2 linked regions of the Homo sapiens genome follow. The protein of the gene in region 1 purifies or fractionates together with the protein of each later gene. This does not show direct contact. Each region holds a gene or a part of one and is shown on either strand. Other genes may lie near its edges.

What was found. Proteins that work in one complex are often made in the same cells at the same time.
Region 2: the proteins of ADAT1 (region 1) and QTRT2 fractionate together in Homo sapiens (co-fractionation; one large-scale study listed by BioGRID). This does not show direct contact.

Annotation. Positions count from the first base shown.
Region 1 is NC_000016.10:75,606,282-75,609,781, reverse strand, and holds part of ADAT1 (tRNA-specific adenosine deaminase 1), read left to right. Parts: intron 1-793; coding exon 794-939; intron 940-1,458; coding exon 1,459-1,558; intron 1,559-3,500. UniProt on the Homo sapiens protein: Specifically deaminates adenosine-37 to inosine in tRNA-Ala.
Region 2 is NC_000003.12:114,066,737-114,070,236, reverse strand, and holds part of QTRT2 (queuine tRNA-ribosyltransferase accessory subunit 2), read right to left. Parts: intron 2,251-3,500; coding exon 2,174-2,250; intron 1-2,173. UniProt on the Homo sapiens protein: Non-catalytic subunit of the queuine tRNA-ribosyltransferase (TGT) that catalyzes the base-exchange of a guanine (G) residue with queuine (Q) at position 34 (anticodon wobble position) in tRNAs with GU(N) anticodons (tRNA-Asp, -Asn, -His and -Tyr), resulting in the hypermodified nucleoside queuosine (7-(((4,5-cis-dihydroxy-2-cyclopenten-1-yl)amino)methyl)-7-deazaguanosine).

The sequences.
Region 1 (3,500 bases):
CAGTGAGCCGAGATCATGTGACTGCACTCCAGTCTGAGCAACAGAGACCCTATCTCAAAAAAACAAAAAATTTAAGTGGTTACCAGGGAATAGAGAGTGAATGCTAATAGGTACGAGGTTTCTTTCTGGGGTGATGAAAATTCCTTAAATTACATTACCATGATAGTTGTACAGTTCTATGAATATACTAAAAACAATTGAATTATCCACTTTAAATGAGTACATTTTATGGTATGTGAACTATATCCCTATAAAGATGTTGGTTTTTTGTTTTTTTTTAAAAAAGCCAACCCTAGGCACTGTGCCTGGGATGTTTTCTGTTTTTCCTATTCTGGTACTTGCAGTTGCTATCTGCTTCATTCTAGACCAGCATCATGTTGGCATCTAGTTTGTTCAAAGATACAAGAGAAAAAAATGAAGCTTTTATATTATAGGATAATTTTGGGTTTTGGTGTGTTTGAAGGATTCCCTAGGAAGCAGGTGCCAACACATTAATGTTTCTGCTTAAACTTTTCAAGTTTCTCAAAGCCTATATCAGGAATGGAGTTTGGTGTTACATCCCTGAAGGGTGTTGACTTGATTCTTAGTTATCCCTGCAGATTGAGGGAGAAGGATCTTCTTCCAGCCATGAGGTGCTTACAATCTTGATTCTATTCTGAAACACTGTCTGCCCAAATAAATAAACAAATCCCCACACCTGCTAAGGCTCAGGGGTGATGATGTGAGCCACAATCCTAGATACTGTTTTCTCTAGGCATGCACCTAAACTGAATGCATTTTCCCTTGTATTTAGGTGTCAGAATGTGTCTGCTTTACCAAAAGGCTTCGGAGTTCAAGAATTAAAAATACTGCAGTCAGATTTACTATTTGAACAGAGCCGCAGTGCGGTGCAGGCAAAAAGGGCTGATAGCCCAGGTCGACTTGTTCCTTGTGGGGCAGGTAAGAGATCCAGGTTAGACCTGCCCTGGAGTAACTGCTCCCCTGACTGAGAGTGGCCCCAGAGGGTCGGCATCCTCCCAGCCTAGGAAGGTAGTTCACCACTCTAGTGGCCGGTAGTGTGGGCTTTAGAGACACCCATAGTGGGTCACGTTTATGCTCTTGTGACCCCCGGCATGTTATTTACCCTCCCTTGGCCTCAATTTCTTTGTCTTCAGATTAGAAGAATATCATTTATCAGGGTTATTGGGAAGATTCAGTGAGAAATTCTGTTTAATGCATTTACTCTGTGCCCAGCAAATAATAAATGCTCAGTGATTGTTAGCTATCATAATAATAATGAATTATGAACCACTTAGACTACTGTACCCTGGAGGCCAAGCATCCAATAGCAGTCATTGTCTGTGACATCATATCCAGCTCTCATGGGTCTGTAGAGTCAGAGAAATATTTTTATTAAAATACTTCTGACTTTCACAAGAAATTGAGCAGTTTTAACCCTAGAATCTTATCTTTTCATAGCCATCAGCTGGAGTGCAGTTCCTGAGCAGCCTTTGGATGTTACTGCCAATGGCTTTCCACAGGGAACAACAAAGAAAACAATTGGAAGCCTTCAGGCAAGGTACAGCATATTGGGGCAGGAGGAGATGGTGGCTGTGAACTCACACTCTACCACTATCTAATTCTAGAACATTTTTATTACCCCAAAAAGAACAACCATACCCATTAGCAGTCACTACCTATCCCTCCCTCTCCTCATCCCTTGGAAACCTCTAATTTACTTAATTTACTTCCTGTCTCCGTGGATTTGTCTAGTCTGGACATTTTCTATCATTGGAATCCTACAGTATATGACCTTTTGTATCTGGCTTCTTTCACTTAGCATAGTGTTTTGGAGGTACATCCTGAGGTAGCTGTATCAGTACTTCATTACTATTCATGACTTGAATAATATCCCATTGTGTGGATATACCACATTTTGTTTGCCATTCGTTCATGAATGGACGTTTGGGTTGTTTCACTCTTTGGCTATTGTGAATAGTGCTGCTGTGTAGAACTATGAACATTTCATGTACCACTTTTTGCATGGCCATATGTTTTCAATTTTCTTGGGTATACCTAGGAGTAGTGTTACTGGGTCATATGGTAATTGTTATGTTTAACTTTTTTGAGGAACTGCTAAACTGTTTTCCATAGCAGCTGTACCATTTTACGTTCTACCAACAATGTATTAGAGTTCCAATTATCCTGAATCCTTTACAACACTTGTTATTGTCTTTTTTATTGTAGTCATTCTAGTGGGTATGAAATGGTATCTCATTACAGTCTTTTTTTTTTTTTTTTGAGATAGAGTCTTGCTCTGTCACCTGGGCTGGAGTTCAGTGGCGTAATCTTGGCTCACTGCAACCTCCGCCCCTGGGGTTCAAGCGATTCTCCTGCCTCAGCCTTCCTAGTAGCTGGGACTGTAGGCATGTTCTACCACACCGGCTAATTCTTGTATTTTTAGTAGAGAGGGGTTTCGCCATGTTGGCCAGGCTGGTCTCAAACTCCTGACCTCAAGTGATCCACCCGCCTCAACCTCCCAAAATGCTGGGATTACAGGTGAGAGCCATCTCACCCGGCCTCATTACAGTTTTTATTTGCATTTACATTTCCCTAATGACAAACGGTGTTGAGCATCTTTTTATGTACTTATTAGCCATTTATCTCTCTACAGCCTCGCAAGTAGCTGGGACTACAGATGCCCGCCACCACGCCCAGCTAATTTTTTTTTGCATTTTTAGTAGAGACGGGGTTTCACTATGTTGGCCAGGCTGGTCTTGAATTCCTGACCTTGTGATCTGCCCACCTCAGCCTCCCAAAGTACTGGAATTACAGGCGTGAGCCACCATGTGCTGCCTATAACTGGTAGTTTTTGAGTGTTCACTTATTGAGGTCTTCTTACATATATTTCAGCAAGTTTTATAGCTTTATATAAATCTTTCACATCTTGTATTAGATTTATTCCTTAAATGTATGTTAGTTATCTGTTTCTATGTAACAGATTACCCCCAAAATAACAGCTTAAAACAACAATATACATTTATTATTTCACATAGTTATGTGGGTCTGGAATTGAGGAGCTTAGCTAAGTAATTAGCTTAGCTCAGCAATTTATGAAATTGCAGTCCATTATGGCAGCCAGGGCTGCAGTCATCTGAAGACTTGACGGGGGCTCAAGGATCCTGTTCCAAAATGGTTACCTTGCATGGCTGACAGATCAGTGTCAGCTGTTGGCAGGAGGCTTCAGTTCCTTATAACAAGGACCTCTCCACAAGGCTACCAGAGTATTCAGCTTCACGACTCAGTGGCTGGCTCCCCACAGAACAGGCAATCCAAGAAAGCAAAGCAGAAGCCACAGTGTCTTTTATGACCTAGCCTCAGAAGCCAGAGCCTATCTGTAATATCTTAATGGTTATTCAGATCAGCCCTATTACGTATGGGAGGGGATTGCTAAGGGGCATGAATACCAGGAGGCAAGAATCACTGGGGACCATTCTGGAGTTTGGCTATCACAGATGCTA
Region 2 (3,500 bases), on another chromosome or scaffold:
ATGTGAGACATCTTACATATAGGGCAAGTGTAATAATCATGTCAGAGTATTTAAGTATCCATCACCTCAAGTATTTATTATTTCTAGGTGCTGGAACTTCTACTTCTTTGCCTGGCAAAATACTACGTGTCCATTGAGACACTGAGTTCACATATTAATCTGATCTCCAAACCTCCTGGACATAATCGATCACTCACTCCTCTATGCTCTTACATCAATTTGTATTTATTTCTTTATAGAAATGATAGCACTTATTACACCATTCTTTATTTGTCTGACTAGAGTATCCCAATTCATGTATGTATCCCAAAAGCACAGTCTAGGGCCCTATACATTTTTAATATCTAGTGTTTACTAGACTGAGTTAGATATAGAATTAAAGACTTAAATCTCCTAGTTCAAGAGAGTATATATTAGTAATATTCTATCTTTGAGCTAAAAGCAAAACTACCATTCAACCCAGCAATCCCGTTACTGGGCATATACCCAGAGCAATATAAATCATTCCGCCATAAGGACACATGCATGCAAATGTACATTGCAGCACTATTCACAATAGCAAAGACATGCAATCAACCTAAATGTCCATCAATGATAGATTGGATAAAGAAAATGTGGTACATATATACCATGGGATATTATACAGCCATAAAAAAGAATGAGGTCACGTCTTTTGCAGGAACATAGATGGAACTGGAGGCCATTGTCCCTAGCAAACAAATGCAGGAACAGAAAATCAAATACCACATGTTCTCACTTATAAGTGGGGGCTAAATGATGAGAACACATGGACACAAAGAAGGGAACAACAGACACTGGGGTCTACTTGTGAGTGAAGGGTGAAAGGAGGGAGAGAAGGATAAAAGGTAACTATTGGGTACTAGGCTTAATACCTCAGTGATGAAATAATCTGTACAACAAACCCCCATGACACAAATTTACCTATGTAACAATGTTTACACGTACCCCCGAAACAAAAATAAAAGTTAAAAAAAGGGAAAAAAAAATTCTATCTTTGGTTACCCTACAGATCCCTCTTCTCAGATCAACAAGGACATAGATGGCAGGCCAACATATAGTCGTTTTATTTTATACTAAGGCATCAGAATTACTGGTTAAATGATTCCTCTCTCCCTTACAATTTGGGTAGAAAATGGAAGTCAAAGTATTTTTTTTTTTTTTTGAGACAGAGTCTCGCTCTATCACCCAGGCTAGAATGCAATGCACTGGTGCGACTTTGGCTCACTGCCACCTCTGCCTCCCAGGTTCAAGTGATTCTCTTGCCTCCACCTCCCAAGTAGCTGGGATTATAGGCGTGTGCCACCACACCTGGCTAATTTTTGTATCTGTAGTAGAGATGGGGTTTTGCCATGTTGGACAGGCTGATCTCGAACTCCTGAGGCTCAAGCCATCTACCCACCTTGGCCTACCAAAGTGCTGGGATTACATGCATGAGCCACCATACCCAGCCAAAGTATTTTCTCTAGAATTCAAACTACAAAATAAATAGAAACTTAAAACAGGAGAATGAGTAAAAACAGTGTTCTGAGGGGCACAATTAATAAATATTGCTGACATTAATAAAGTGAGTGCAGGAAAAGTATTTGCGTTTGTAAAGTAGCAGTACACACTGAAGCTTTGCCAGAATGCTGTCCTCAGGGATAATGCCAATGGGGCCACCTCTCAGCCTAACACTTTTAATGAGGTGCTTTTGATACTGTTCTTCACTAGACAAAATCTCTGGCTGTAGACCCAGCAGACAATATTATATTGAGATTCTACTATATATAGTTATACATGTGATAATACTCATCAGCAACTTTCCCCACTCTTCCTGAAGTTGTTAAAAATCCAACAAAGCATGGCGCCGAAAGACTATCGTTTTCCCCTATCATAGCAATTTCTTTTTTTGGCATGTATTTGACCCTCCTCTACCCTCAAATTTTTTTGCAACAATGAAAATGCTGAGGATACAGTGTTCTTCATCTTAACCTCATCCTTAGGCAGCCCTACTCTAAGTCTTATAAACCATCCCATCCCACTATAATTATCGAAATAAGGAAAAGGTATAAGGGATCATCCCAGACAGTGGGATCTGAGCATCTGAGGGATACACCATAGGCTGACTTCCTGGGACAAAGCTGCAGCCTTGGAGACCCTTCTGAAAACACACCTTGTTTGTTACATAACCAGCCGGGCAGGGGCTGACTGGATCGTGCAGGGAGCAGTACAAGAGTGATTCTGGCATGCCTGTATAAACACAAAAAAGAACCCTTGAAAGTGCTTACATCAACAATGACACTGTATTATAGCAGGGAGCAGCTTCGCAATGTGTACTGCTGAATAAAGCAACTCTAAACACTGTCAATAGGTTGTATCTGAACTTGGAATTAGAGAAGGCCTATCAATATGTATAAAAAGATTACTAATCTAAAGAAAGAAATATAAAGCTTCACGTCTAATAAATAGGTACTGAGCTGCTACAAAGGAAAGATGTATCTTAAAGCACAATATACAATGAAAGTATTTAGTGACATGTTGATCTCATTTGACTTTACTTAAAGAATTTACTATCAAATATGCTTATTCCAGGTACCATCCAAGGGGAACTAGCTACCGCAAAGATAAAATGATATGCCCACAAAGTGATCTCACTAATAATAAATCTCAATAATATCATGGGTCCCTAGGGGCAGAATTTTAGAGAAGCTATAGGATGCTGCAAATGGATCCCATTCTTAGTAAGTTTCATTGATTCACGATGACAGTTTCTTAAGTTCTTCAGTCAAAAAGACAATCATTTTTTAAAAAATGCAAAAAAAGTTTAGTAAACCATGTGCCTAAATATCATATGCTAGCCCACATTTTCGTTAAGGAAAATAAAACAGGATTCCAGTGAAAAAAAAGCAAGTGTAAAACCTCTGCAGTTTTTTCACTTTATTTTCCATAATTTCAATTATTACAATTATCTCTAGAAAGCCTACATTAGCTATTTTCATTTAATTATATGCTTGTATACTTTAAAGCTGGTTATTAAAATTGGGCTCAGGTCAAGGAGAATGATATTCCATAAATTCCTCTACTAAAATACAGGGCTTTGTGATAACCAACAGGACATCATGCAGCTGCTCTCAGAAGCAGAAGACTGAATAACCAATGGAAACAGGATTTTCATTCAAGTGAGTCCTAGATACCAGAAAAAGCGTTAGGAGAAAGCGGTGTATAGAAGAACTGATGTTCTAGCTGTCACTGCTAAGCTTTTCCTATAAATAAATAGATGCATACATCTGCATATAAAATCCTATTTCTGGAATAAAGGATAATATTAACATATCAGAATACAGCCATATACAAACGCTTCATCCTCCCCTGCATGTTTGAGGTTCAAGCATGATGAGACTACTTTGGAGCTCACGAATGCCCCATGCAAGTTCTCACCGCTGAGTCAGATACTCAGTGCCTGCAGCATCTGCCCCACACCTGTCTGGGCTCCCACTCCT